Linked DNA regions of Homo sapiens: region 2 is linked to region 1. The links come from fine-mapping of genetic effects on gene expression. A gene starts in region 1. The other region holds a variant in brackets. All regions are shown on one strand. Distances are between the middles of the regions.

Region 1 (16,221 bases):
ATCAGGGGCATCTCTGGCCAATCTCTGGGGAGGACTGATATGAGTAGAGGGTCTTGAGCTGGAGACAAGCAAGATCCTGAGAAAGTATTGGAAATAAGTTGCCTGTCCTTAGAGTTAGAAAACTGCTCAGTAGTGAAAGAAATGGGCTTCAAGTGGCCATGGTCCAAGATGTCACCTAGCTCACCACACTGGCTCGCTGGTGCTGGATTGCAATCAACTGCACACAGTCTGACCCCTTGTCCTGATTTTTGATCTGCTGCTATATGCCCTGTAATGTGCATTTACCAATGTGTAAGAGGGGTATCTGAGAACAATACAATGGGCATATATAAAATCCTGCCGTGAGAGTGGAAGAAAAGGCAGCCCGATCAACAGTCTGGTTATCTGCTATTCCTATATGATCTCCTCCCGCCCTTGCCATGCACACCTCTCAACATCCCCTTCTTATCCACTTTGTTATCTAGCCACCTAATATGTTTAAAAGTATGTATCCTGGCCTAAAACGGAGTCAGAAGAGGGCAATATTTAACCCAAATGAATAACCGAATCAGGAGAACTGTCGGTACAAAGGCCAGCCAGCTGGGATAGTCTTTCTGGTGCAGGAGACCCCTCCAAACACATCTGGGACTATACAGTGCAGAAGGCTGCCTCCTCTGCTTGAGGCCAAGCATGACAGGAGGTGAGGAGGGCTTCAAGCTGTCTGGATGAGAAGAAACAGGTATTGCTCACTTGGAGAAGTGAGTCAGAGAGTGAGGCTTTCAGGGAAACCGATTCTTTCAGCAATTTTGAAGTAAAATCCAAGCAAATATTCTTGGACAGCAAGGCAATGCCTTCCAGGGCAGCAGAGCCTCTCTGACCTCACTCAGAGCCTTCCTCAAGCAGACATCACATCATTCTGAATAGGTAAGCCTGTGTGAAGAGGGGAACCCATGCCTACCAGTGTATTCTGAGTTTGTAACCCCAGTTTTACCACCTCTGAGCTCTGAGACTTTGGGCAAGTTACCTCACTTCTCAGTGACTCAGTTTACTCCTCTGTAAAAATAAGATTGTAGATTTACCTCCTTCATAGGGTTGGTACGAGGATCAAACCAACCGACATATGTGAAGTGCTTCAAGATAGTGCTTGGCACATAGTATGAACTCAATAAACATTCACTGTTTTATTAGCTCTGGAATCTGATGCAGAAATAATATTTGACCTGGCTGAGCTCCCTCTTCACTCGTGCCTGTGTGCCAATCACTCTTACCACCTTGTATTTACCTGTCCAGTGCAAACCCCTGCCCCTGACATATGCTTACCCAATGCCTACCCACCCATCAACATCCCTTTTACTTTCTCCATAAGTCTTTCCTGACCTCTATTGTTGCCAACTTCTTCCTTTCCTGCAAGGCTTCGGGGGGTCTGTGATGCACAATCTATGATTTTCCCATAAGTCACCAAGTTCTGCAATAGTTTGTGTGATGTGTGATGTGCAGTGTTTGCCCTAGACAGAGTGTGAACTCTTTGATAATTGGAACTTGCTTTTATCTTTTTGTTCCCCTCACAGAGAATAACAGGAGGCTGAGAAATAGTAATTGGCTGAAAAGGCTAGAGAACAGGACCTAGTGCATGTCTGGAAGGGCTAACTCTCATTCTAACCATTCTCCTCTGACCAATACTCCCTCTGGCCTACTGCTTGTTTCTTTCCCAAATCTCAGAGCATGATCCTCTGTCCTACACAGTGCCAGGATCTTCAGCTCAGTGCTCTTCCCCAGCTCAGGCCTCCCCATGGTCTACCCTCAAAACCTGTCTTTCCCAGGGAACCATTTCCACAGGGTCCAATTAGTCATGGGTTAGATAACAGCTAATAAAACAATCATCGATTTCAAGCTGTTATTTGAATATCATAGCTTCAGTTACCCCATTCCATATAAACATGTATTATCACAAAACTTGTCAATACCTTAAACAAAAAAGTATGCCTTTCTGTTTTCTCAGGTAGCAGGGCTTGGAGGAAAGTATGAACTGGGCAGGAGATCTTTCCTTACAACCCAGATCACACCACATAAGCTCTCCCTCCAGAGACCAGAACCTCCCACACCTCTGGCACTAGCACATGGAGACAGGCTTGTTTATTTACTTAGATAGCAAATATTGCTGACCTTTACTCTGAGCTGGCCCTGCACTAAGTGCCAGGGCCTTTGAGATGAATGAGATGGAGCTCTGGCTTCAAAGACATCCATAGACTAGTGAAAAAAAGCATGTCTTTTTACAAACAAGTCAAGCCAAATGCGTGTGTATGCATGTGCATTTACATTTATATATGATATTTACACACAGGTGCATATCCACACAAGGAGAGAGAGGCAGAGAGAGACTGAGAAACAGAGGAACGGATAACAGTTTGAGCTGAGAAAAGATATGAACAAAGCTATTGGATTTCTAAGAGATCAGAAAAAAAAAAATTCACCAAATCTCAGACACTAAACTAACTGTTCAAGTGATCAATAATTAGTCATTGTATATTTAGTGCATTTTACATGCCCCAAACTGGGCTAAGTGCCCTGACAACTATTTTACAAGGTAGATCTCTGTATCCCCATTTTAGAGATGAGGAAACTGAGTCTCAGATGGGTTAACTAACTTGTCCAAGATCATCTAACTAGGAAGCAGTAGGGCCAGGTTTGGAACTCAAGTTTTTCTGGCCATATGCCCAAATTTTACTTTATAGAGGAGAAGGAAAAACACATAAATTGTCTATGTCAAGAAATGACAGCACTAGGGATTACAAACAGGTGTGTTCACCAAGCAAATCACTGCATACTGCTCATCTCATATCTTGAGGCAAGGCTCTGGAGATACCAGGAGAGTCAGAATGAGCCTCTAGCACTGGTCTTTGAGCCCTGAGGACTAGAGTCAGACAAGGAAACACAGGCATGCAGGAAAGAGAGGCAAGTCACTCAGAAGTAACCAGCCTGGGAAGGTTCCTTATGGAAGGCCAAATCTTGAGTAACAGTGAAAATTGGGCTGAGGAAGGTGACCTACTAGCTTGATGCCCAGAGAATCCAAGAGAGGTAAAGGGCACATTCCGGTCCAAGAACCACAGGCGTTTCAGGATGGCAGCAGGTCAGAGTACACTTTCTGATGCATTGCTGAGGGCTTTTTGGCATTTGTGCTTCAGTTGGAAAAATGACTCTGTTATACCACTAGAAGACACCTGCTACTTACCCAAAGATGACTTAGAACAATCCACCATAAAAATTCCACACTACCTTTGCCCCTGCAGGAAGTTCTGCAGTGTGCAATCTGGAATATTCAAGGATGGTTTTTGAATCTGTGGGAGAGAGAATGAGGTGACTGCTCTAAGCGAGAACATTGGTTTCCATGGTGAGAGCAAGGTCCGTTTCCCTCACCTCACCTGCATGCCCTTTTAAACAGCCTTAGACACTCATACTGTGCTCTTCTGTGGGCAGGACCACAAGGGCTCCTGGGTAACTCAAAGATGCAAACAGCTCAGCTTCCTTGTGGTCCCTAGACCTGCTTTCAAAACCACTGGGAAGACTATCTGACAAATAGGGGGCACTGGGTATAGTGACCTTTATATTCTCATCCCAGTGCCACACCCTCTAGCTGGAGGTCTTGGCAAGTTCATTTACCCTCTCATAGAATTTGTTTCTTCATCTGTGAAATGGGCTAACACTGGCTCTGCATGTGTTGTAAGAGTTAGAGATTGCCCATGTAATGGGATTAGCAACAGTGCCTGTGACATACTAAAGAGGGACTCCATACACTGAAATTACTACAATTACACCATACTGTTGTTATAATTCTGCTCCATCCTCCTCCTTACCTATTACCACATGCTGCTTTTGTAAACTTTGTCTCTGCACTCCCATCTCCTTTGCCTGTGTCTCTATCACAGTCAATACTATACTTTGGACAAATTCTCTCCGCTGCCACTCTCTTAAAATTTTCACATAAAAATCTTGTCTCTCCAACTAAAACAGAAGCTCCTCAACCCTAAAACTTAAAGTATAATAATAATAAAAATTAAAAAAAAAAGAAAGGTAGGGGTGGGAGGGGTGGAGGGTGGTCCTCTGCTACTGGCTCAGAACCAGAGCACTGAGCAAGGCTCTTAGCACACAAGGCGGGCACTACAACAATTGATGGTCTATACTTGAGTATTGTTCCAAATGACCTCTATGCCTAGATGTTGGGAACTTAAGAAGGACTGTGTACCAAGTCCTTGAGGTCTTGGGACCACTGACATTTTGCCAAATTTAGCACAAACTTTGAGGTGTTGTCTAGATTGCATTGTCTTCCTTCCCTTGGATAAGACATGTCTTTCTCTGCCTCCAGAAACTCTTTGGGTCCACAACACCTTACCAGCTTTACTCATAGAACATGAGCATGTGATCTGGTCTCTTCATGGAATCCAAGAAGTATTTATCTTTTTTGAATAGCCAAAATATGTAAGGGTGAAGGGAAGGAGTTATAATTGCCTGGCCACTGTGTGATTTCTGAAATTGGAAATATGTCTACACTGAAAGTACAGTGATTCTGTGAAAACCCCAGGTAGTTGTCCGGGATTAACTGCTCGAGTCCCTAAAGCAAGAAGCAAGAAGCAAGAAGCACAAAGGCAGAACAAGCTGTGCACCACAGACACAACATCTTACACAAGACTGAAGCTGGGAGCACATGCTTCCAGACAGTTGTTTGGAGGGTGCATTCAACTCTGTCAGAAAGCTTGACTCCAGACTCCCAGTGTTTTTCTACACATGAATACAGAATTGTACGAAAGAAGTATCTGGTTTTTTGTTCAATCTTCACACGCCTTCCTGATTTTTTTTTTTTTTTTTTTGTGATGGGAATAACAATGGTATGAACCTTAAAAATGGCAAAGTCAGAGGCAGGGTGCATTATACACAAAACATACAGCTTTATCATTTCAAACATTCTTCAGAGATCATATGATTTGGAAACATAAAATGCAAGTGCATTGTTATAAGGAAAGTCAGTCCTGTAAATACTAACTAAAGTGTCATAATAAATGTCTCTGTTGTAATCAAATATTACACATTTATCTTGAAAAAAAAATCAGCAGCAAACAGAGCTCTTTGCAGCCCCCCAGTGGTTGGAAGGGGAAAGAAGCGAGAACAAGGGGAATTCGGACAGTTAACTCTCAATCTGCAGGGCCAATAAACTTTTTACCCTGGAAAAACAAATGTCTAGTTTGTTTGTTTGTTTGTTTGTTTTTGAGACGGAGTTTCATTCTTGTTGCCCAGGCTGGAGTGTAATAGCGCGATCTCGGCTCATTGAAACCTCTGCCTCCCGGGTTCAAGTGATTCTCCTGCCTCAGCCTCCCGAGTAGCTGGGATTACAGGTGCGTGTCACCACACCCATCTAATTTTTTTTTTTTTTTTTTTTAGTAGAGACGGGGTTTCTCCATGTTGGTCAGGCTGGTCTCGAACCCCTAACCTCAGGTGATCCGCCCGCCTCGGCCTCCCAAAGTGCTGGGATTACAGGCATGAGCCACCATGCCCGACCTGACAAATGCCTAGTTTTAACCAAAAAATGAATATGTTCTAAGTCGGATGTTGGTTAAAATGCACATAATTATCCACATAAAGTGAATCATTGAAAGCCTGGGGTTTTTATTTTCCTTTTTTATCTCTCTCCTTCTCTTTCTCGCTTACCTCTATGAAGCTTCCCATTCTGACCTGAGAACTCAGCCGTGCATTATTACTACTCACACCAGATCCTCTTCCCAAATGATTTCTTCCCTGTTCTGCACTTGCTGTGTGCTTCTCACCCTCCTTCAAACTCCCGTTTGCAGACATCTGCTTATATCAATTACTGTGCTACAAAGTGATGGGAAATCTCCTCCCCCCCACCCCCCAAAAAAGTAATTTGCCTGTTTAACAAAGTGTCTATATTGGGAAAGCAGGGGGGAGATGTTTGGAAGTTCATTGTTTTTTATTCTTGTCTTCACCAAAACAACAGTCTCTCAGCTTGATCCCTTCATATCAGCCACTTCTTTACCGCACTCTGAGATATTTTCATAACGAGTTTTTCTCTCATGAAATTTCTCATTTCTAAAAATAGAAACTGCCTGTCAAAGATACACCAAGAAAAAAAATGCTGAAAAGAAACAGAATGCCTGCTTATAAAATATTTTCAAAACGATGACACCAAAAAATTTAAAAATTACAGATAAACATAATCTCCCATGTTCTTCTCAAATATATCACTCCTAAGTTATTGGAGGGCCAGTTTCTAAAGCCCAGACAAGGCGAACTGCCTGCCTCCAGCTCTCCCCAACCTCCAAGAGTAATGCAGCCTGATAGGCATTTCCTCCCCTAAGCTAGTGGTCAAGTGTAGCTCAAAGCAAGCGTCCGAATCAGGCTGTCTCTAACAGGGAATCTATTTTCTGACAGGCGCAAACCCCTCCGCCCTCTGATGATTGCCAGGCAGGATTTGGGGACCAAGTACCCCTCATTGTCACCTGGCGGATTTGGCCACAGTCCACAAACCAAACGCAAGCCCTACTTATGAACAGCGCAGAGAATCAACAAGTTATCACTAAGCTGTGCGCCCCAGCTAGGATCTGCCACAGCCTCCCCTGAGCCCACCACTGTTCCCCACCAGCTCTGCTCTTCCCTCGCCTCCCCACCCCCTGCAAGCACGTGACCTCCTGTTTCAGACCCGGCCCCCCACCCCAGAGCTCCCGACGCTCCCAGGCAGCTGTCAAAGTCCGGGGTTCGCCGGCTTCCAGGCTCGCCTGACAGAGCCAGGCGTTCGCTTGGATCTAGCTTCCTTCCGGGCGGGAGGCGCGGGGAGGTCAAGCTCTTCAAAGGAACAGGGTGGGCAGGGGAGTGGTGCCAGGTTAGGCTCCTCGGTCCTCGGTAGTCAGAGCGGAGTAGGAAAGGCAGCGGGGAGCCTCACATCCCGCGCTTCTTCCGGACCCCGCCGCCTACCCGGAGGGTACACGTTCCCCGGGGAGTCAGAGACGCCCTGGGGGAGCTTGAGGAGTGTCAGCGGGGCCTTCCCTGGAGCCTACAAGTTTCCACTCCATCCCCGAGCTGGGAGACAAGTCACAGCTCGGCTCCCTCCTTGAAAGCACCGCCGCTGATCCTTCCCCCAGGCAGGAGCAGACACCTGCTTGTCCCCACGGCGCGCCAGCGCCCTGCTCTAGCCGTCCCTGGGCCAGAGCTCGAAACTCACCCACTGCGCTCCCACCCCGGCACAGACAGCCCTCAAAGTTGTCCGTACTCCCCAGACCTCGCCTTCTGCTCAGCCCCCGGACCCCGCCCAGGGGTTGAGTTGACGTCCGCGGGTGGACCTCTCTGGTCCGCTGCGCAGGGAACTGACTTCGGGAATCCAGGGCGCACAGAGGCCAAAGAAGCTGCGGCAAGGGAGGGTGGGCAAATCCAGCTTGAGCCTAGGTCCTTGCCGCTTTCACCCTCAAGCCTGCCCTGCCTCCCTCCTGGGAGAAGAGCAAACTTCCCCAGCACCCACCTTTAGCCGCGAGGAGGCGGCGCTGCCGGCTGTCCCCGCCACCGCCGCTGCCGCTCCCCACGCCCAGCGCCAGCAGGAGCGGCACCCAGCACAGCCGCCCAGGCAGCATCCTCGCAGCAGCCGCCAACGAGCTGCAGCCGCCGCCTACTGTCCGCGCCGGCTCTCGCCTCCCGGTGCCTGCCGCACCGTGGGCCGCCTCGCCGTGCCCGATGGGTGCGCTTCTAGCGCTGCCGCCGCGGCGCTCGGCCTCGGGTTCCCGCCGCTGCGCCGCTAGCTCGCCGGCAGCAGCCGCGCTCACTGGCGCGGACCCGGAGCGGCTCAGGCGCTCACCCCGGGACGGCCCGTGACGTCACGGAGGGAGGGAGGTGGCTCGTGCATATTCATGAACGCGGGCATCGGCGCCGGGTTCCGCGCTCCCCGCCCCAAGGCCCCGACCCCCAACTTTCCTCAGCCGTCTCCACGCTCCGGGGCCCTGTCCAGGTCCCCCTGCCCAGTCGGGACCGGGCCCCCAGAGGACCCTGGTGGGCGGCTCCGGAGAGCCCTCCAGCCCCGCGCCTCCACTCCGACTCTCGGAAAAGCTGCCGCAAGGGATGGAGGGCTCCCCCAGAAAGTGGCCACCCGAGGCCTGAGGGTCATCTGGGGTGGCGCGAGGGACCCTGACCTGCCATGCCCTTTGAACTGATATCTGGGCGGAGAGGACTGACGGGCGTCGCTAAGGGTCTTGCCCTTGGCTGGGTCTCTGGGCGTTCTGCGTCGACTGGTCTGGGGAGGGCGCCAGGCGCACACTAGAGCAGCGCCTAGTGGTGCTAGGGGTTGTCGGGCAGAGTAGATAGCCTTGGACCTGGATGGCAATGGCAGGGCTCCGCGTCATCTCCGAGAAGCAGGGGCAGCCGCGGCTCTTAGAGGCTGATAGAACAGCTAGATCAGAAAACTTGGGGTGCTGGGCCTGCTGAGGCTGCAGTGGCGGGGGCGGGGTGTCAAACTTAAAATTCCCTGCGGTATGGTGCCATGCAAGAAGTTGCCACCTTTATGTTGTCACTCCGCATCTCTAAGAACAGGCTACTTGACGTCATGCATTGTAAAATCTCGTGCCGTTGAGTATTGTCAGTTCCCTGAGTGCAGGAGCCAGTGCATATCTTTGCATCCTCAACCATCTCTAGGCCGTGAAAAAATTACAAAGGTACTCAAAAAAAAAAAAAAAAAAAACAGTAAGGACTCAGAATAAATCCTTGACCATATTTACCTAAATGAAATGCCAACATCACACACAATGCAGGGTTTATGAGGAATAGTTTGGAAATAAAGTAGATATGGAAATACAGAAACAAACAATATTATTTATTTAGTCATTGATTCAAGACGTTTGCTGAGCATCTAGACAGGCTGTATCACCCTGACAGTGAGCACTGGATTAGTCGTTGGAGATCCAAAGACAGAGGAGAGAGTGGGTCCTATCCTCAAAGCTTTTGTTCCCTGCTTGGGGAGCCAGAGAGGGCAGCAAAGGCAATTACAATCCCTTGTAAGTGTTATGGTCCTGCACATTCTTTATGTTGCTAGCTATGAGCCTATACAAATCAATTAACAAAATGTATATATTGCAAGAGTGCCTAAACAGCATCCTCTAATTAATAACTGTAGTTTGAGGTACTCAACAAAGCCATAAAATCCATTAACAGCACTCCTGCAGCTCAGCCTCCCTCTGCTGCCCTGGCAGCTCACTCAGAGCCTCTGCAGTGGTGAAAGCCAACTCTTCAGGATTTCAGGCACCAGGATGTGCTTGGGGACAGCAGTGAATCATGGTGGCTGCATGGGGCTCAGACCCATGTGGGGCTCTTTACCTTCAGGTCTCCTTTAGCCCACAAATCAACATGTGCGCTATTATTCTCATTTCACACATGATGAAATAGAGGCTCAGGGAAGTTAGGTAACTTCCTTGTTCAGGGTCAAAAATCTAGTAAATGTCCCAGGCCGACACCAGGACCTTGCCTTTGTCAGATGTTGGTTTCAGAATCTAGAAAAGATGGCATGGAAAGGTGGTAGCTGACCCAGGGAAAATAAAAAAGCCAGAAAATAGAAGAGAAATGTAAATTTGTCTCATTTTCTTCCATTTATGCTCCACCCAACTACATATCTGCCCTCCTCCCTTCATTTTCTCTAATAAGTAGACCTATCTTACTGACTTACCTGCACTGTTCTTTGATGTCATTATACTGGGCTTTGTTAAGATCACTGATTGGTCCTAATAATTTTATGTGAAGTTTCAAATTCAGACCAAATAATGAGAAACAGGGGGAAATGTAGCTTATTAGGAAGCATCTCCATGGAGAGATAGCCAGGAAAGAACACAGCAAAGAAAAACACTAGGGGGTGGGCCAGTTACCAACAGGCACAAAATTGCTAGCCTCCATCTCCTCCTCTACCAATGAGGGTAATAACAATGCCTATTGTGGTAGATCAAGTGCACTAATGGCCATTTGTCCATGCTTCTCTGAATCTGTTTCCTTTGGATGTGCCCTCCCACCCCAACTCTGAGCTAGGCCATATGATTTGCTTTGGTCAGTGGGACAGTGGCATGCATGTTGCTTCTTCCTGCCTTGAATCCCTGCTGCTGACATGAGAACAAGCCTAAGCTAACCTGCAGAAGGGTAGGAGACTGCATGGAGTAGAACTGAGCTGTTTCAGACAGCCAAGGTCACACTAGGCTGGTCAGAACCAACTGGCCTACAGGCTGGCTAACCACAGACACATGAGCAAGCCCAGGTAAGCTCAACCAAGATCAGCCAAGCCTGGCTCACATCAGAACTATCCAGCTGACTTATGAGATACAATAAGTGGTTTTTGCATTAATTCATTATGTTCTGGAGCAATTGATTGAGCAGCATTATGCCTACTTCATAAGATCATTACAAGAAGTAAATTTTAAAAATATGTTAAACAGTATGTTGCACATAGTCAATGTTCAATAAATGTAAAAATGTCTTCCCCTTATCCTACTTCCTATATCTCTGAAAACAAGTGTGCCAGTCACACATTTGATTTGATTCATTTGGGGAACAGGCAACAATGACCTGCCTTAGAGGAGATAAAAGTAAGTAAGTTCAGCCTTAGAAATACTCAGACATAAGAGCTTTTAAGTCCACATCATTTGTATGGAGCACTACTGTGCTGTCTGCTTCTGCTGGGCCATTGCAGATGCAAAAGATGGGGTAAAGCAACCTAACAGTTAATGAGTCCTCATTCTTTCCATGCCAGGCTTTACAATGGAGGATATACATTCCACACCTACACCTTCTTTAATCTTTGCAACAAGTGTGCTGTGGTTTGAATATGTGTCCCCTCCAAAACTCATGTTGAAGCTTAATCCTCAATGTGGCAGTATTGAGAGGTGAGACATTTGGCAGGGGGCTGGTTCATGATGGCTCTGCTCTCATGAATAGATTAATCTGTGCATAGATTAATATATTAATGTGTCAATAGATCAATGGGTTATCATGGGAATGGGACTGGTAGTTTTATAACAAGAAGTAGAGAGACCTGAGCTATTACATGATGTGATGCCCTTTGCCACCTCTACAGAATCCACATGAACAAGAAGGACCTCACCAGATTTGGACTCTCAACCTCAGGCCTCTCAGCCTCCATAATTTTAAGAAATAAATTTGTTTTCTTTATAAATTACCTAGTTTCAGGTATTCTGTTATAAGCAACAGAAAATTGACTAAGACAATTGTGCTATTTTCCCTATTTAATCATAATCAGATTACTGGCTCAGAAAGTTTGAGCAACTTATCCATATTTGCATAATTGTGCAGAATATCAATTCATGTCTGCTTAATTCCAAATTTCATCTTTCTCCCACACATCATGACTTTGGGAGAGGCATGCGGGATAAGTAAGCAACAAAAAATAGTTTCAAATCAGAAAAGATAGCTTTGGGGATTTGATTTTTAAAAAACCTTTATCTATCACTACCTCTGATTAAGGACCAATTTAAATAGCCAACTGTCACCAAAGTAGAGATACAAATCTCTGAATATCCATTACTTATTCTGGACTTAGTATTGTGGCATATTCCTCTAAAGATTTTATTCAAAAAATGGTGAACAGGGCCGGGCGCGGTGGCTCATGCCTGTAATCCCAGCACTTTGGGAGGCCGAGGCGGGCGGATCACGAGGTCAGGAGTTCAAGACCAGCCTGGCCAACATGGTGAAACCCCATCTCTACTAAAAATACAAAAATTAGTCAGGTGTGGTGGTGCGTGCCTGTAGTCCCAGCTACTCGGGAAGCTGAGGCAGGAGACTCGCTTGAACCTGGGAGGCAGAGATTGCTGTGAGCCGAGATCATGCCACTGCACTGCAGCCTGGGTGACAGAGCAAGACTCCATCTCAAAAAAAAAAAATGGTGAACAGGATGATGTAAAGCTTGGTCACTCTAAGCCTCAAGTCTGGGGCACCACCTGGCAGTGTAATAATGAATCTCAGGTAATTTATCTGGGTCAATAGTTCTTAATAAATAAATAACTCCCCTATTCCAGAAAATAGAATCTAACTGGCATAGGCCCCATATAAACATAGCCATTTCCTCTCATTTCACCAGGATCATTAATGCGTTGCCCAATTAAGCACCAAAACACAGGCCCTAAATAATTTAAGCTGGGTAATCAAAGAAAATAAATAAATTATATATACTTATGGAAACTTATTTTTAAAAAGAAAATTAAACTGAGGCTTTCTCCATGACCCAGATTTAATTCAACTAAAAGTACTTAACTTTAAAAGAAAGGTTGAAAAGCTGATCTTTACAGAACTAGAGTCATTTGTCATTCTTTTTTCCCATCTTGACAGGTAAAACTGGGGCTTCATGACGCTTGAACAACTGGACAGTTTGCAGATTTTTTAACATTGTTCTTGGAAGTTTTTACGCTGTTGCTGCCAAAGGAACTTCTTTTAAAAAAAGTTTAGGCATTTCTCTTCAGGAAAAAGTTAAAAAAAAAAAAAAAAGCTTGTTCACAACCAAATCCAGTTCAGCATTGTTTGGACATGAGTGTTTTATGCTTGGCAAGGTGGAGTGCCCTGGCTGAAAACAAAGATATCATTAATAATAGCAAGGCATTATTCCAGTACACTTATGTATACTTTCCTTGGAATTTTATGCCCTGTGGTGTTTTGCTTGTTTGTTTTTTTAAGCAGCCATAAAATTCTGTGGCTCTTCCTCCATTGAGAGATGGAATCTATATCTCTTCTCCTTGAATCCAAACAGCCTTGAATCTGAGCATTGTTTCTATCAGTAGACTGCACCAGCAGTGATGCTGTGTGACTTCCCAGACTAGATAATAATGGTGATGCAGCATTTGCCTTGCTTGCTAGGATGCTCACATATGGAGGCTGGAGCCTCCATGTAAGAATTCTAACTACGCTAAGGCCGCCATGTTTTAAGGATCACAGGCCATGCAGAAAGGCTGTATATAAGTAGTTTACAGCCCCAGCTGAGTCCAACATTTGAGTTATCCTGAAAGTTCCAAATAATTCTTCCCACTATGCCCTGCCCAAATTCCTGACCCATAGAATCCATGAATGTAATCAAATGGTTGTTTATACCACTAAGTTTTGGTGTCATTTATAATACATCTAGAGGAAATAGAACATATTTATTTTCATTTGTTCCCTACAACAAAGGCTGGGAAAAGATAAATATTATATTTCGAGGCAAGTCATGTGTAATTAGTCCTATTTTGTAGCTCAGATGTTGAGACTTGTAGAAGCCAAGGCAAGGAATAAGTAGAGCTTAGTGGAAAGAAAATGATTTCTAGAATCAGACAGACCTAAGTTGCAAACCTAGCTTTCCTGTTTTCTAATGATGTCTGACTCGAGAAAGCTACTTACTCTGAACCTCAGTTTCCTCATCTATAAACTTAGACTAATGAAGCAGGTTGTTTTCAGAGTAAAATGAACTGTAAACTGCTGAATTCTTTCCATGCCAGATGGTAGGGATACAGTAAATAGGGCCATTGATAGTTACAATGGACACTCACCCAGGGCCACACAGGTTGTGGATAGCCTTTTGCCTGACTTGATCCAGTATTTGGTGTTTTCTATGCAGGTAAAACGTGGACAGATATGGACACACATGACACCACAGAAGCTCCAGCCCCACCAGCACCTTTGCCAATCCTGCCACAGGAAGCACCAGCCCACGTGCCCTGCCAGAGCAATTCAGATGTGTCTCAAGTACCTAAATCTATCTGCTCTGTGTCATTCCAGGGCTTTGTTCCACTAAGGGAGATGAGAAGGAACCTACCACTTATTGAGCACCTACGATGAGCCAGACACTGCACATATTACTTCAACCCTCCAAAAGTCTAGAAAGGTGATTTATCATTTCCATTGGACATCTAGGGAGATTAAGTTTCAAAGAGATTCAGCAACTTGCTCAAAGAAATTAAGGTGCACTGCTAAAAATGAAGAAGCTGGAATTTGAATTGTCTGGGTCCTGTCTGACTCTGAAGCCATGTTTTTCCAGCCAAGTGAGGCAATGTGTCCAGCCTCCACCACAGCTGTAGGTGCAGGGTTTGTACAGAGACCAAATGCACTACCCTGACTCATTCTGGCCATAATCCCAGGTTTTACACAGAAGTCGTTGTCTTTCAGTGATTCTCTGAAGTTTCCCAGGTTGGAATCCTGTTTCCCCACTGTCTCAGTTGGTACTGGAGATCTTCCCTAGAGATGTTCCTTTCTCTTTTATTTCCTTTCTGTCCCTAAGGGCCTGACTCAAGCTCCACACCTCAGGCTGTCTCCTGACTCCATCCTCTCCTGCAAGGCTTTCACATAACCAGTGGTTTGATCATCAATACCTAGCTCTCCTACACTGCTCAGATACTTTCCAAGACTCATCAAGACTTACTGCAGAAGGCCAAAGTTGCTTAACAAAAATTCAAGTCCCTCACCAGCCTGGCCTCAACTTCCATTGATAACCTGATTTCCTGTGACTCCATTTTATGTAAACTCTGCTCCAGCCAGTCTGGGGACTCCACTGTTTTTCAATAGGGACCACACCAATCCTGCTTCTACACCTTTGCTCACGCTAGACCCTCTACTGTAGTGGGGCTGAATTGTGTTTCTCAAAAAGTCTTGTGTTGAAGGTCTAACCACTGGTACCTCAGAATATGATTCAGAATATGACTGTATTTGAAGATATGGCCTTTAAAGTGGTAATTAAGTTAAAGTGAGGTTATTAAGGTGGGCCTTAATTTAATATGACTGGTGCCTTTCCTTCTAAGAAGAGGAGATTTGGAAATATAATGTGAAGACAGAGAAAAGACAGCCATCTACCAGCCCAGGAGAGAGGCCTAAGAAGAAACCAACCCTGCCAACACCTTGATCTTGAACTTCCCACCTCCAAAATTGTCAGAAAATAAGTTATTAAGCCACACAGTCTGTGGTATTTTGTTATGCAGCCCTCCACACTAATACACCTACCTACAGTCTCTTCCTCTTTCTCCCCAAATAACCTTCTCAGTCTTACTTCCAAAATAAATATTTTTTCTACCTCCCCAAGCACTTGCTTATCTTAAAGTCTTCAAGAGGCTTCTCATCACTCTTAAAATAAAAAAAAAAAAATTAAACCATTTTAGTCTAACTCACAAAGCCCAACTTGATTATTCCTGCCTGCTTCTCTGACCTCTCCCACCTTGCCTACTGGCCTTTGGTCCTTTGAACATAACCAGCTCTTTCCTGCCTTTGCTTTAAACTGGGATTGTACTTCCCTCTTACATCACATGGCATTCAGGTTTCATTTTAAATGTCACTTCTCCAGGGAAGTCATTCCATTACTCTATATAGCGTTTCTTTTTTAATTCTCTGTAATCACTCCTTGCTGATATTTTCTTGAAAGTTTACTTGCTCATTTATTTCCAGCCTCCTCCCAATAGAACCTAAATTGCAGGAGAGGCGAGACTCATGTGCCTGACACATGGGTGCTAGATAGTTATTTACTGAGTGAATGAATGAATGCATGAATGAATGGTTTACCTTCTCTGAGCAGAGCACGTTTTGTCCTGCATCCCTCTTTTTTGACTATTGACATAAACATCCTATTGAAAAATCACTTAAATGTATATTCTTCTTATAAAAATCTAGAACTTATATTTTCATGTAGCTTGAGCATGATACTGCAAAATTCATACTCATGGGTGGGAGGGTGGTGTTAAGTAAGAAAGCATTTTAAAGGGTGAGTAGTACAGATACTGTTTTCGTTTTATACATAAGGAAATGGATGCAAAGAGAGGTTACATCACTGGCTTAAGCTCACACAGCCTGGGCTAGATTCTAGTTTTCTTGAGTCCTGGTTCAGAACTCTTTTTCTATATCATGTCTTGGTACATAGTCAGAGTCAATAAGTAGAGTGCACAAACACCAGTGCTTAAAATGCCTGGAGCTGACTGAGCTAGGAGTCAGGAAATGCCTTCCACACAAACACCCCAATGGAGAGATCCCTATGAAAGAGAAGAGAAGGGTTAAACGTTCATTTGCTTTCCCAACTCAAAAAGCAGCCTATGCCTGCTCTTCAGAGCCTTCTAGTCTAAGATCGACAAGCTGACTTGCTAGACTGCTCCAAGGAAATCATTTCACCTAAGTAATTTTAAAGTTTTATGTCTTTCATTTCTCAGTATTTAAGAAATTTTTTTCCAGGTTGGCGTGGTTATGTGTCATGAATCATGTGTCCAA
Region 2 (16,221 bases), 41 kb after region 1:
AAATGAAGTGATGGGTTGGCTATAGGGGCTGAGGGAAAGGGAGGAATCAAAAGTGGCTCCTGTATTTCTGAGAATGTAGGACAGGGGTGTGATGTTGTGTTTGGGAGGAAATAATCAAGAGCTTCATTTGGAAGGGTTAGGTTTGTGGTGTCTTTGAACTTTTAAGCTACAGTAAAGTTTTGTTCAAAACTGGAGTGCAGAGAAGAGCTCTGGGCTGGATTGTGCATTTAATGTCAAAAGAAGCCCCTCAAGCAAGCTTATGTAAAATCAGATTTGTTATGAGGATTCAGAGGAATCTCACCAAACCTGTGGGCAGAAATTATAGACAGTCCTCCCAAGGAGCTGCAGCCAACAAGCCATGCAGACCCCAGGAGTGGAAGCAGCTTCTCTGCCTCTGTATCTTTGATGGTCTCATATGGCTTCTCTGAGTCTGGGACTCCAGTCTGTCTGTCTGTCTCTCTCTCTCTCTACCTGCTGTGTCTGTCTCTGCATTTTTCTCCATTCCTGTCTGCCTTTCTTTCTGTGTGTCCATCTCTTTCTCTAAAAGTGTGGCTGCATGTGTAGGGTGTGCCTCCCTGACCTTGCCTCTTCATGGTATATCTCTCCATATGTCTTTATAATTATCTGTGTGTCTGTCTCTGTGTGTCCTTTTGTCTGCCTGTTCTCTCTCTCTCTGCACTCTCTTAAACTGCCTTCTTTTTCCTTGCTTCCTCCTCTCTCTCTCTGTTTTTGTGTGCAAGTGACCAAACATGGCTGCTTCCGTTCAACATTTACAATATCCTTTAATTCACCTGCCGGAGAGAGGCTGCCCACCAATTCTGAATTCCAACCCCAAATTCCTGGGGGAGAGGATCTGATTAGCCCAGCTTACATCAGGTGCTCATTTTTAGTTCAATACAGCTGTGGCCAGGAAGACATGAAATGGGGCTGGGAAGCATCAGGTGGTATAAAAATGATTGTCTGCCACTGATCAACAGAGCACTCAAGTCCAGGCCAGCAGTGGGAAAAAAAAGAGGTAAAATACTTGGAAAATAAAACACTCAGTATTTGGAAATGTTATAAACATCTACCAAGAAACAACAGCAGAATCAAACAAAATACAAGAACTTGCTGAAGTTACTGGATTGAAGAGCAATTTCAAAAATTAGTATCATTTCTTTACACTAGTAATAATCTAGTGTATAATAACTGGCAAATATAATTTCTAAAAAGATACCATTCACAATAGCTACAAAAAACACAAAATATGTAAGAATAAAAATGCCTACAGTGAGTAAAATTTAAAGTTATAACAAATAAAAATATATGTATGTATGATGATCTGAATAAATGGAGACCCATTCCAAAGTCATGAATGGGCCAGTTAATATCACAAGAATGTGAATTCTCCCCAAATTAGTTTATAAATTCAATGTAAGTCCAATTAATTTTCCAGCTGGAGTGTTAAAGGGACTTGATAAATGTACTTTATAATTTACATGAAACAGGAGAACTAAAAAGATTTCCTCTGGGGCATGCTGGCCTTCATAAAAAGTAGCTGCCATCAGTTGAGGACAGGCTGGAGAGCTGAAAACCTCTTGAAAAGTTCAAAGACATCACGAACCTCAACAGGTACATTGAGGTGGCCCTCTGAAAACTGGAGCAGGGGAACAAGGCAGAGAGAGATTTCCTGGGGTGTAGAAAGACAGGGTGGGGACAGAAATCAGAGTGAACTCCTCACAGCAAAAGAGCTAACATGGCTCAGAAAGCTGGTAGTTAAGCTGTAAAGTATAAAGAGATACTCAGAGCCCTGGATCCCTGGATCCCCAACCCTACTGAAGGGGAAGTCTTGATTCTACCCTCAAAATATTTGAAGCCAGTGGGAATTGAAACAAATTAAAAGTTCAAGAAATCTCTGGGCCCAGTTGAACTAGACTTTAGATTAACTCATCCCCTACACTAAGCAGCCTGAGAAAAGAAGAATCAATCATGCCTTTTCCTGGAGGACAAAATTATTTACCTCAGTCTCTACTGTGATTTTAACACAGTGTCTGAAATACAGTTTAAAAATTATGAGACACAGGACAATCAAGACAGTGTGATGCATGGTCAAGAGCGGAAACAGCAAAGCACTCATTTATTTAAAAAACAACCTCTAAGAAAAGTCAAATTTGAAAGTGTATTAGTTTCCTATTGCTGCTGTAACAAACAACCATAGATATAGTGGCTTAAACAACACAAACATGATCTTACAGTTTTGAGAATTTGAAATCTTAAACAGTTTTCACTGGACTCAAATCAAGACATTGGCAGGGCTGTGTGCCTTTCCAGAGGCACAACAGGAGAATTTGCTCTCTTGCATTTTCCAGTTTTTACAGGATATCTACATTCTTGGCACGTAGCCCTCTTTCTCCACCTTCAACACCACCAACAATGGATCTCTCTGGCCATTTTTCTAGTAGTTCCATCTCCATCTGACTCTCTTCTTTTGCTTCCCTCTTCCACTTTTAAGGACCTTTGTGATTACTTTGGGCCTATCCAGGTAATCTAGAATTATCTATTATTTTAAGGCCAATTAGCAAATTTAATTCCATCTGTAATCTTAATTCCACTTTGGCAAGTAACATAACATATTTTTAGGCTTCTGAAATTAGGACATGGACGTCTTCGGGAGCCATTATATTGCCTACCACAGAAGGGAACTTCCTTGATCTAATATAAGGCAACAGTGAAAAGCATGCAGTAAAAAGTTCACATTTGAATGTAAAAAGTAAAACATTGAATACCTTAAGATTGGGAACAACTGTTTCCAAAGATTTCTTCTCTCACCACTTCTCTACAACATTGTCCGAGAACTCTTAACTCAGTGCAATAAGACAAGAAAAAAAAAAGTGCAAAAATTGAAAAGGAAGAATAAAAACAGTCTTTATTCACAAATACCATAATTTTATATGTAGAAAATACTATGGAATCACCTAAATTTGGTAATTGACTTTACTAAGGTTAAAGGATATGAGATCAACATTTAAAAATTTATTATATATTTATATATTAGTATGAATAAACAGAAAATGAAATTTTAAAAGTAAAAAAAAATACCTAAGATGAATGTAACAAAAGATAAGCAAGACTTCTACCCTGAAAATTATAAAATATTTCTGGGAGAAATTAAAGAACAAAATGGAAAGATAGCATCATATTCGTGGGTTATACTATTCAAAGCTGATAAAATTGTCTACTTTCTCTAAATTAACCAAAAGATTTAGTACAATCCCAGTTGAAATTTTAGAAGTATTTTAAAAAATAAATTGAAAAGGTAAGTCTAATTCTAAAATGTATATGGAAATGTAAAGAATCTAGAATATTCAAAATAATCTGAAAAAATAAGAACAAAGTTGGAGGACTTACACTACCTGATTTCAAAACCTACTGTAAAGTTACAGTAATCAAGACCATGTGTTATCAGCATTAAAAAAAACCTGTAGGTCAATGAAACAGAATAGAAAATCCCAAAATATGCCTACACATATAGAGATTTTTGACCAAAGAACCAAAGTAATTCAGTGAGGAAAGGAAAGTCTTTTTAACAGAATGTGCTAAACAACTGATATCTCTGTGGAGGAAAAAAAATTAAAATCTAGCTCAGTAACATATGTAAAAAATAATAATTTCAGAGAGATTATAGACCTAACTTTAAATATTAGAACCATAAACTTTCTTAAATAAAACATACAAGAATGTCTTTGTGACCATGGGTAGGTAAAGATTTCTTAATGATAACTCAAAAAGAACTAACCATAAAATAAAAATGATAAATTAAGCTCCCACAAAATTAAAACTTTCTGCTGATAAAATGGTACCATTTAGAAAATGAAAAGGCAAGCCATATTGGAAAATATGGAAAATTGGAAAATTTTAAATTTCCAATAGATATATTGGAAAAAAATTCACAATATATTTATTTGACAAAAGACTCGTGTTCAACACATTGAAGTGAGGAGGGAGTGCTGAGAACGTCTATAAGTCAATAATGAAAAGATAAGTAATCCAAGAAAAAATAGGGAAGAGACTGAAGAGTCACTTCATGAAAGATTACGCAATAAGCACAGGTAAAGTTTTCACCATCATTAGTCACCAGGGAAATGCAAATTAAAACGAGATACATTTCATACCCACTAGAATAGCTTTTATCTAAAAGACTGACAATACCAAATGTCGATGAGAATGTGGAGCAACTGCAACTCTCAGACATTGCTGGTGAAATGTAAACTGCTACAGTGATTTTTTTTTTTTGCTTGTTTGCTTTTTGAGACAGAGTCTCACTCTGTCACCCAGGCTGGAGTGCAATGGCACGATCTTGACTCACTGCAACCTCTGCCTTCTGAGTTTAAGTGATTCTCTTGCCTCAGCCTCCCAAGTACCTGGGATTACAGGTGCCCACCACCACACCCGGCTAATTTTTGTATTTTTAATAGAGACAGTGTCTCACTGTGCTGGCCAGGCTGTCTCAAACTCCCGACCTCAGGTGCTCCAACCACCTTGGCCTCCCAAAGTGCTGGGATTACAGGTGTGAGCTACCATGCCTAGCCTACAGTGATTCTGAAAATTAGTTTGGCATTGTTTTATAAAGTTAAATGTAAGTCTATACCCTAAGACCTAGCAATATTTATTCTAAGTATTTACCAAAGACAAATGAAACATGTGACCACAAAAAGAGTTCAACAATAATGTTTATAATGTTCATTTATATAACATCAAAAAATTCAGAGCGGTTACAAGTGTCTGTCAACAGGTAAATGGAAAAACAAACCTACTCAGCACTAAAAAGGAATGAAATGTAAATACTTGCAATAACAGTGGTGAAACTTAAAAAATAAAACCTAGATCTAAAAGAATATGGGCTGTCTAATTCCATCTACATGAGGTTCTATTCAGGAAAAACTAATCAATGGTAGTAGTAAACAAAATGATCATAGTGTGGGGGGGATTGACAGAAGTTCACATGGAAATTTTCTGGGGTGATAAAAATATTCTACATCCTAAGACTGTCTCAGCTAATTAAAAATTTTTATTCTTTTTATTGATTGTTTCCTTTGCTGTGCAAAAGCTTTTTTAAGTTGTTGTGATCCTATTTGTCCACTTTTGCTTTGGTTACCTGTGCTTGTGATTACTACACATTACATGCCTGTATCAAAATATCTCATATACCTCATAAATATATACACCTACTATGAACCCACAAACATTTAAAATTAAAAATTTAGTAAAAAATTTTATTCTTCCATATAAATTGAGATATACTCTTATACATAACAAACATGGAAAGATCATAAGTATTCAGCTTAAGAATTTGAAAATTATATATATCATTTTTTTCAAGACAGAGTCTTGCTAGGTTGCCTAGGTTGGCCTCAAACTCTTGAGTTCAAGCAATCCTCCCACCTCGGCTTCCTAAGTGTTGGGATTACAGGCATGAGCCACTGCGCCCACTGAAAATTATATATAACCTTTGATGTATGCAAGTTGTGCCTCAATAATTTCTATGGAAGAATAAAAATGTATAGTTAAATAAGTCAACCTTAAGAAGAATAAAGAAGGCTTTATCAGATAATAAAATATACTATAAAGCCACAGTAATAAAAACAGTCTAATATTGTTCTACAAACAAAATACAAACCAAAAGAACAGAATAGAGGGCTAATACAGACCCATTACCATGCTTCTTATAGGATAAAATGACACTGTGAATCAAAGAAAATATTGTTTAATAACAGGGCTGGCAAAACTGGAACACAAGAAAAATAAAGCAGGATCCTAATATCATTTTATTCCAATATCCTAATATTTAATATCAGGTATCCAATGATACTTGATATAATTTTATTCCAAATGGATACAAGATCTAAATGTGTAAGATAAATGTCTATAATGATTAGGATAAAATATAGAAAGCATAATATCACTGTGACATAGAGGTAGGAAAGCACTTCCTAAGCAGTTTCAAAAACACAAAACACATAGCAGAAAACAGGTGGATTTAATCATATCAAAAGTATTTTTGTATTTTTCAGTTCAATGTAAGATATATGGAAAGAGTTAATAGGTGTTAATAGGTGACAGAATGGACGGAATGGAAGAATATATTTGTGGCATTTTATATCAACAAAAAATGTATTATTTATAATATACAAGAAACTTCTGCAAGTCAAATGGAAAATAGATAGCAACCCTGAATTTAAAATGTTCAAAGGATATGACTTAGCATTTTATAGAAAAAAACTCAAAGGGCTAATAAACATGTGAAGAGATGCTCAAACTCATTTTTAATCAGAGAAATGCTAATTAAATAACAAAGAGAACTAATAAGTTCTGAGCTTAGAACTTATTAGTCTTGTAAAATTGGAAAACTGGATAATGCCAAATGCTGGAGGGAAAGTAGGGGCATGGAAATTGTCTTGTGCTGCTGATGAATGTGGTACAGCCATTCTGAAAAACAGTCTGGTGGTACTTAATCAAGTTAGGTATACACATACCTATGACCCAGCTACTCTGCTCCTGGGGCATATGCCCCAAGTAATTCTCACACAGGTTCAAGGGGCACGAGTATGCAGATGTTGAACTTTCAGGTTGCAGGAGGTTGGAAGAGTAGCTAGTTAAATTGTGATGCTCACCATAATGTATGTACTAGATAACAGTTAGCAGTAACCAATCAACTATGTACATGGCAATGAGGATGGATCTGGAAAACACAGAGCTCAGTAAAATAAGAAAAATAATGAAATATATATGATACAATACCATTTAGGTAAATTTAAAATACAAGTATACAGAACAACAGTATGTCATTTATAGAAGGATACACATTAAACACTTTAGAATGACTGACTGAGGGCAGAAGCTAGAAGGAAATGGGAATAGAGAATGGAGAATAAGGAAGTAAATAAAACAAAAGAGGCATGGACCAACGATGATTATGAGCCACAAACTGAAGAGGCTAACTCAACAATCTGCACCCAAGGCTTAAAAATTGGTTGTAGGAACTCCCTTTCAGGGGAAGGAGGACAATGATCTAGAAGACAGAAGTTTTGCTGTGAAGACCCTTGTGAGGGCCCACAGTGCACCAAATGGCCATAAAGTATTATATATTCATCTTCAATTTTTTAAAAAGAAGAAATTGAAGTTCAGAGAAACTAAACAACTTGCCCAAGGTCACAGTTTGTAAGAGGCAGTGCCAGAATTCAGACTTAGTATCAAAATGAGTCATCACTTGACTGCTGCTGCCCTGGACCAAGCCAATATCGCTTCTCACCTGGCCTGTTGCCATAGCCTCATCCCTGACCCCTGTCTCCCACCATACCCAACCAATCTATTCCACACAGCAACCAGAGCAGCCCCTTAGAAATAGAAATCAAATTATGTCACTTCCCACCTCAAAATCTTTCAAAGCTGTCTCAGTCCCACATCACTGAGAATTAAATCCAAAATGCTTGCATGTCCAACAAGCCCCCATATGGCCTGGCCCCTGCCTAGCTTTCCAGTCTCATCTCTGATCATGCTCCATCTGGCTCCTTCAGCTCAGCCATATTGACCTCCTTTCTGTTTCTTAAACACTCTGAGAACATTCCAGTCTCAGGGCCTTGGCACTAGTATTTCTCCCCATTTTCACATGGTTTCTGCACTATTTCACTCAGGTCTCTGCTCCAATATTATCTCTTAAGAAAGGCCTTTCTGACCGCCTTACCTCTAATGCACTATCTTCTGCCCCAGTCATTTTTTAATGCCTTACTCTGCTTTGTTTCTACCACTTATCCCTACCTGACAGCACGTTATTCATATTTTTATTTGCTGGTTTATTTTTGTCTCCCACGGTAGAATGAAGGCAAAACATTGCTCTAACCAGTGTGCTCTACACAATGCCCAGCCCATGGCAAGCCCTCCTTCAGTGTATGTGGATGAATGTTTGGATGTCTGAGCCCAAACCCATTTCTGTCCCCTATGACATCACCCGTGGCTCCCAAACAGAAGTGGGGAAGGGAGCATGGGGCAAATGGGGACAACAATGAAGATAAAATGTAGCCCTTGAATAGAAAGTAGGTGTGCGGGTCAGGGAGAGGAAATCCCAGAACCTGATGGGACTGAGCAGGCTTGGGAGCAGCAGGAAGAATGGGTAGGCCCTAAGATTTTAGGGTTAATGTTCTCTAGCCTTTTTGTTTTTGCTACAGAAAAGATGAAAACCAAACTGGCCA[GTTTCCCCAC/C]CCCCAGATAAGCCAATGTGTCTGAGTCTGTTCTCATGAGCCTCAGGAGACAGAGATTTCACAACTGCCTTGCAAAATCCCTTTCCTAAACCTAATGACCATCACAATAAGAAATTCATCCTTATTATAGGCATAAATTTATCTTGCTGCAATTTTATCCCATTTTCTCCAAGAAATGTACTAGATTATCAAAAAATAAATAAGAGGTAAAGTGCTATAGAAATATAACGCATTTACACAACTCAAATAGGAGATTTTCCCCTGGATTGTAATAATGCATCTCTTGTTAATCCCAGCTAGCTCTCAGAATCTAGCTCTTAGGGCTGAGCTCGGCAATCAGCTTCCATAAAAGTGCCACTTACTGTATGTCTTCCCTGAAAGACACTATTGACAGGACCATTAAGAGAAGAGATTCCTTGGGGGGGGATGAGAGTAAATCTTTCATCAAACAATTTATTGCCCTTCTGCTAAAAGCACATCTACTATTCATTATCACTCCAACTAAATGGTGGTATTAGGAGTCCTGGAAGAACTCTGACCTGGCCACAAAACCCACCCTGTCTTGTAAAAGCAGACTGAGCTGTTCTCCCTCCAGCACCACCTGAAATGCTGTCCTCATGGATTCATTCCTTTGAGTTAAGCATTGATATTCTAGGTTCTGCATCTAAAAGGTCATTGAGTAATTAATTTTTCCATTTGATGCATTTTATATATAGTTTATATGTAGTTTTCAGTTCTCAACTATAATTATCTTCTTTTTTATTTTCTAAAATCTGAATCATAGTTTAAAGCCTCCAATAACTGGATATCCTACAGACCTTTTATATTGCCAATTTTTTAAAATCTTGATCATGAGTCATTTTATTTTTTTCTTTTTTCTATGCTTGTCAATTGTTGTTGCAGGCCAGATATTGCATATGAACAATTGAAGAAATCATTTAAGGTACTGGATAATGCTATATTTCTCCAAAAAGAATTTAGTCTTCTTGTATCAGGCATTTAGGAAGGGCACAGTTTGCTTAAATTCAGACAGGTTTTGAGATAATTCACAAGTAGGCTTCTGTATTACTAAGCTGCAAACTTTTAAAAGTCCTAGTTGAAAGCTTGGTGTTTACCAGGCCTCTCTCTGATGTTGGGCTCCACTTCATATTTTTGTCTACCACATCCATCCTCATGAGATAATTAAAGCTCTATTTATCTTTTCAGCCTCTGTTTGGTATTTCAAATTGGAAAACACCTCCAGGAGAAAAACAGTGCCAGGTTATCAGGCATACCTGACAAATGGGGTACTTTCTGTCTTCTTGCTTGCCTATGTTTTCTTATTTTTCTGCAGTGAGCTGTTATTCACTCAAGTTATACGTTATTGAAATGTGTCCAGCTGTGCAGCTTTCCCCATTGTGATGAATTTCTCTTGAGCTCACGACTTTTCCAGAAGTGTTTTGTTTTTCCCACTCTAAATAGACTCTCAGACCCCCATCCCCTTGGTCTGGCACTGCTGGACAAGGCTGGCATCGTAGCCATAATCCTTTCTAGTTTCATTACTAAGAATGCTCCAGCAGTGGGTTTATGACCCCATCATCATTTAATTAAGGAGTGGGCCCTGGGAACTGGGAGCACCAGTGGCCCCAGCTCCCTAATGCCACCTGGAATGTGCAGTCTGGTGTACAACTGCACCAAGGCAGTGGTTCCATTCCCAGCTGCAGGAGTCTAACTATAAGAAGCAAAGTGTACCAAGCTAGGCGTTCCTTCCTGTGAAGGACTCCTGGCCCCAGAACTGCTGTCAGCTGCACCTTGGAAACAAGTGCCCCAAACAAAATGCACCAAGGAACTCATTACTCAAGGGTGCCCTGTGGCAAACCATTTTGCAAAGCGAGCAATTCAGAGTGAGTGATCACTCTAGCATTTGAGTTTCACTCACAAGGATTGTTAACAGCACACTGTAAACATCATTCACATTAATGTTGTTTCTTTTCAATCCTTTATTTTCAGAATAAAACATTCCTTCACCTCTCCTTGGCCCAAAACTTACATATACTTGAAAAAATGTATGTGAGTAGCAAATAATTCTTCTCAATTTGTATTCCAATGTCTGAATTGGCTTTGATTTGGCCTTAAAGACTTGGCTGATCTCTCTAGGCTGCAGGGTAACAGATTCTGAAACCCAAGAGAATGAGCTCAGAGCAAAGAATAAATTTGAGGTTTATATCTTCACTGACGTGTGCCTGAGGATGACTGGAAATGGGCATCCCCCAAAACTTTTCTCCTCCTTCCTTCTACCTGCCCAGCTCTGTTTCTGTGCCATTTTTTGTGGAACTCATGGGTCCTAAAGCCCTTGACTAATTTTTGTCTTCCTGATTCATCAGTTTGTGATGGTTCTATATTAAACCCTCCCACTGGGACTAGGGATTATCATTTTTACCTTGTATCCTATTTCTAGGTCATGTTACTAGTAGCATAAGGTCACAATTAATATATCTCAATGAATTATACCACTTATGCAAGGTCTTAGTGCTTTTCACCTTAAATTCTATTTTATCTCATGGAACAACTTTCTTGTGGCTAGCATTTGTCTTATATGCTATTTCCATCATTTACTTTTTCAATTTAGGCTACAAGTCCAATGTGCTATCCATTGCACCAAAGAGCCTGCTCATGCTTTTAACCTTTCTACATTAATTTTAGTTGTGACTCTTATAAGCAGTGAAGAAATGGATTTTAAAACAATTTGATTTCTAGTCAACATGGTAGTCCCTGTACTTTAATATGGTTAGTTGAATATGTTTACACATGTGATTACCAATATATACTTTTTTATTCTTTGTTTGTCATGTTTTACTTATCATTTTTTTCTCTTTCCTAAACTTCCTCTTTCCACTGGTTTTATTTTGTGCACACACACACACACACACATACACATTTTCCCCCTTTTGTTGGTTTGATAGTTACAATTTCTGTTCTTTTAATGGTTGCTCAAAACTTTTAATATATATTTTTATTGTATATCTTCTAACAACGTGTAAAGTTTGGCATATTAGACCCTACTTTCTCCCTCTAAACCATGCAGAATCATCTTCAGTGTCAATGGTATGTAGAATTTTAGTTCTACCTCTGTTAAGGAGGTGTGAGAGAGGAAGGAAGCAGGGGGTGGAGGTGAAGTCTATGACACAAGGAATATTCATAATATTCATTCATGTTTTATTTTCCACAATTAAAATCACTTTATTGTCTGTGTTATGATTTTTTAGAATGTATGTTTATTGAAAAAATTCAAGCAATATAGAAAATGGCAAGGGGAAAATAAAAATCACCCCAAATACTTTCTACCCTGAGATAACTAGATTCTGGTGATTTCATCCATTCATGTATCCATTCATGTATCTCTATGTAAATGACACAAATATAGTCACATATTGCTTAACAATGGGAATGCATTCTAACAAATGTGTCATTAGGCAATTTTGTCATTGTGTGAACATTAGAGTGCACTTACACAGCCCTATATGGTATAACCTACTACACACTTAAGCTATGTGGCATAGCCTATTGCTCCTAGGCTACAGAACTGTACAGCATGTTACTGTACTGAATATTATCGGCAATTGTAACATAATGGTAAGTATTTCTGTATCTGTACATATCTAAACATGGAAAAGATACAGTAAAAATATGGTGTAAAAGTTTAAAAATGGTACACCTGAATAGGGCCCATATCATGAATGGAACTTGCAGGATGGGAAGTCGCTATGGGTGAGTGAGTGAGTGAGTGGTGAGTGAACGTGAAGGCCTCGTATTGTACACTACTGTACACTTTACAAACACAGTGCACTAGGCTATACTAAATTTACATAAAAATATTTTTTCTTCAATAAGTTAATCTTAGCTTACTGTAACATTTTCACTTTATAAACTTTTTAACTCTTTTATATTAACATGTAGCTTAAAAGACAAACACAGTACACAGCTATACAAATTGTTTTATATTTGTATTTTATATACTTTTTATTTTTACTTATTTTTTTTAACTTTTTAGACTATGTTATTAAAACCTAAGACACAAACATACACATTAGCCATAGTGCTGTCTTCCACCTCCACATCTTGTTCCACCTACACACCTTGTTCCACTAGAAGGTCTTCAGGGGTAATAATATACATGAAGCTGTCATCATCTGTAACAAAGCCTTCTTCTGGAATTCCCCCTGAAGAACTTGCCTGAGGCTGTTCTACAGTCAATATGTATATACAGAGAGAGTAGAAAGGTAGATGGATACATAAATACACACAGTTTATATGTGTGTGTGCATATATGTAGAAGAAATGTACAAATGTACTCTAAAATAATGAAAAATTATAGTATAGTAAGTACATAAACCAGTAACATAGTCATCTATTATCATTAAGTACTATGTACTACTCATAATTATATATGTTATAATTTTATATGTCTGGCAGCAAAGTAGATTTGTTTACATCAGCATCACCACAAATATGTGAGTAATGTGTTGCACTAGGCGATAAAAACTTTTTAGTTTTATTATAATCTTATGGAACTACAATTATATATGTACCTTCATTGTTGACTGAAATGTTATTTCAGTCAACATGTATACAGTGCATGACTCTATACAAATATAGATTTTCATATATAAACTTTACATAAATTGGCTTATATGCTCACTTTTAAAATCAAGTAATTATTGAACTCTGTTTGGATTTTTGTGTACCTCTCCCCTATTCCAATAGACACATCTTATATAGCCAATATATTAACAGCTTACCTAAATATTCTGTCCTGCCTTTCTCAAGGTTCATTTAATCATATGTAGATAAATGATGAAGAAGGAAGGGAAGGAAGGAAGGAAGGAAGGAAGGAAGGAAGGAAGGAAGGAAGGAAGGAAGGAAGAAGGAAGGAAGGGAGGGAGGGAGGGAGAGAGAGAGAAAAGAAAGCAAGGGAGGGAAGGAAGGAAGGGGAGAGGAGAGGAGAAGAGAGGAGAGGAGGGGGGAGGGGAGGGGAGGGGAGCAAACAAATATAAAGAATTTAAGTCATTGCTGTGTTATTAAACTGGGATTATATTACTTGTACTTCTTTGAAGTTTGCTTTTACCACTTTATAATTCATCGTGTAAATCGTCAGCTGCAATGCACTTGATAAGGTTTAGGATGTGCATCCCTTCCAAATCTTGTGTTGAAATGTGATCCCCAAAGTTGGAGGTGGGGCCTAGTGTGAGGTGTTGGGTCATGGGTGTGGATCCCTCATGAATGGCTTGTTGCCCTCCCCATAGTAATGAGTGAGTTCTCATTCTGTTAGCTTACAAGAGAGCTAGTTGTTTAAAGGAGCCTAGCATCTCATCCTTTCTCTCTCTGGCTCCTGCTCTCGCTATGTGACATGGCTGCTCCACCTTTGCCATCTGCCATGATTTAAGGCTTCCTGGGGCCTTACCAGGAGAAGATGTCAGCGCCATACTTCCTGTCCAGCCTGCAGAACTGTGAAAAATAAACCTCTTTTCTTTATAAATTATCTGGGCTCAGGTATTCCTTTATAGTAATGCAAAGTGGACTAACAAAACACCCAATGATATTTTGTGAGTTTTCATTATGGAAGTTTCATACATAAACAAAAGAAGTGAGAAACATATGATGAACTCCCACATATCCGTCACTCAGCTTCAACAATGATCAATATTTATATTTTCCCAATCTTGTTTCATTAGTCCTTCCTCTGGTAAGCAGAATATTGCCCCCTCAAAGATGTCCACATCCTAATTCTCTGTGAATATGTTACCTTACATAGCAAAGGGACTTTGCAGATATGCTTAAATTTAAATAACATGAGATGAAGAAATTATCCTTTATTGTCCATGTGGGCTCAACCTAATTTTGTGAATCCTTAAAATAAGAGTATCTTTTCTCACTGTAATTAGAGAACATGCAACTATGGAAAGATGATTAAAGAAATCACATCTTGCTGGTTTTGAAAATGGAGAAAGAGGGCCATGAGCCATGGCCTCTGGAAGCTGGAAAAGGTAAGGACATGGATTATCTCCTATGTCCTCAGGAAAGAACACAGTCCCACCAACACTTTTAACTTTAGCCCAGTGAGACCAGCATCAGACTTCCAAATCATACAACTGCAAGATAATAAATGTGTGTTTTTTTAGGCTTCTCAGTTTCTAATAATTTGCAACAGCAACAATGAAAAACAAATACACCTTCATTTCCTTCCTTCCTTCCTTCCTTCCTTCCTTCCTTCCTTCTTTCTAGTAGGGGCTGGAGTATTTTATAGAGAATTTCAGACATGATAGCATTTTACCCATAAATATTTTACTATAATATTTCACTATGTATTTTAACAGATGAAGAGCTTAAAAATAATCACAATACCTATCATCCTTTACAGAATGAACAATTGCTTAATATCATGTAATACTGTGTGTTTAGCATTTTCTTATTGTCTGAAAAAGTCTCTTTTTATACCTGGTGTGTTTAATCAGGTTCTAAAGACCTCAAGTTACATTTCATTGATACTTGTCTTAAGTCATAATAGTTTTCGTTTCTCCCCTTTTAAACAGGCACTGTGTGTGTGTGTGTGTGTGTGTGTGTGTGTGTGTGTGTGTGCGCGCACATGAAGAGACCTGTCCATTTGCTTAGTAAAATTTACTACAGTCTGAAGTAAGCCAACCACACCCTCAAGGTGTCAATTAACTTGTAACCTATTTCCTGTATTTCCTGTAAACTAGCAGTTAGAGCTAGAGGCTTGATTCTATCCATCTATCTATCTCTCATCTATCTATTTATTTATTTTGAGAAGGGGTGTTGCTCTGTCTCCCAAGCTGGATTGCTGTGGTGCATTCATAGCGCACTACAGCCTTGAACACCTGGGCATAAGTGATCCGCCTACCTCAGGCTCTCTAGTAGCTGACACTACAACGGCACACCACTGGCCCCCTCACCAGTTGTTTTTTGTTTGTTTGTTTGTTTGTTTCATTTTTATTTTGTAGAGATGGAGTCTAGCTTTGATGTTCTGGCTGGTCTCAAACTCTTGGCTTCAATCAGTCTTTCCAACTTGGCCTCCCAAAATGCTGGGATTACAAGTGTAAGCTACTATGCCCAATATCTAATCCCCAATTTAGATATTTTGATTAAACTCTTTTGGCTTCCTGTTGCATTGCATCTGGTTGTTTCGCCTTCAGTAATATGGAGACGGATTGGTGGTTCAGGTGCTGTCAACCTATCCATCTATTGTAGTTTTCCCACAGCTTTTCACTCAATGATACTGGGACTAAAGGGCCTAAATCCATTATTTCAAACATTGTTTGGGTATCACTAAAACTTATTTGTATATATTTGATAAATTTTATTTTTTTTTGCAATCATTATTTTAATACTCAAGTTTTCCCAACTGTAGCCAACAGAAACTCCTATGATTGACTGCTATATTCTTTTGGCATGTCTGCTAGTCTTTGACAGTCTTCTAGTATAAAATGCCATTTGGAGACCACAACCTAAATGATGAAGGTTAATTCATTCTTTCTAAAGCTTAAATGATAGTTCGTGATATGAGTGGCAGATATTGAAGCCGAGCTCACTCACCTGCAATCTAATCTTGTTGGAGTATGTCTTACTGAGTGTTAAGGACAACATCTCCAGCCTCTCCTAGACCTGTGATTGCTCATTTGACCTAGTTTCTACCAAACAGGTACCTGAGAGATTCAGAAGTCAAAGTGTGGAGGAATTTTGCCTTGACTGTTTCTGGCATCTCAGCTGCAGTCATGGAGGCTGCTACATGGGAGCTGTCCTAGGAGTCCCAGTGACTGGTGCCTAGCTTCATGGATACCAAGAGTCAAGGGCAAGGCACTTATTTGCTGCTTTAAATCCTGACTACCATAGTGCATCTTGGGTCCAGAAATTGAGGCTGCAGCTTCCTGAATCTCTAGCTTTATTAGTCAGCTTTTGCTAGATCATGCTGCTTAAAAAAAATCTTATTGGC

The links.
Region 2: its variant is fine-mapped to the expression of CLSTN2 in lung (TOPMed, PIP above 0.99).

The regions. Positions count from the first base shown.
Region 1 is chr3:139,926,761-139,942,981 of GRCh38, reverse strand. It overlaps CLSTN2 (calsyntenin 2), which reads right to left and starts at 7,797. Exons shown (of 17, transcript NM_022131.3): 1 at 7,499-7,797. The coding sequence starts at 7,607. RefSeq lists silencers at 7,650-7,709, 7,750-7,799.
Region 2 is chr3:139,885,837-139,902,057 of GRCh38, reverse strand. No RefSeq gene overlaps it. Among named protein-coding and RNA genes, the nearest start is that of CLSTN2, 41 kb to the left of the region's middle. The variant GTTTCCCCAC/C (reference allele first, on the strand shown) is at 8,226.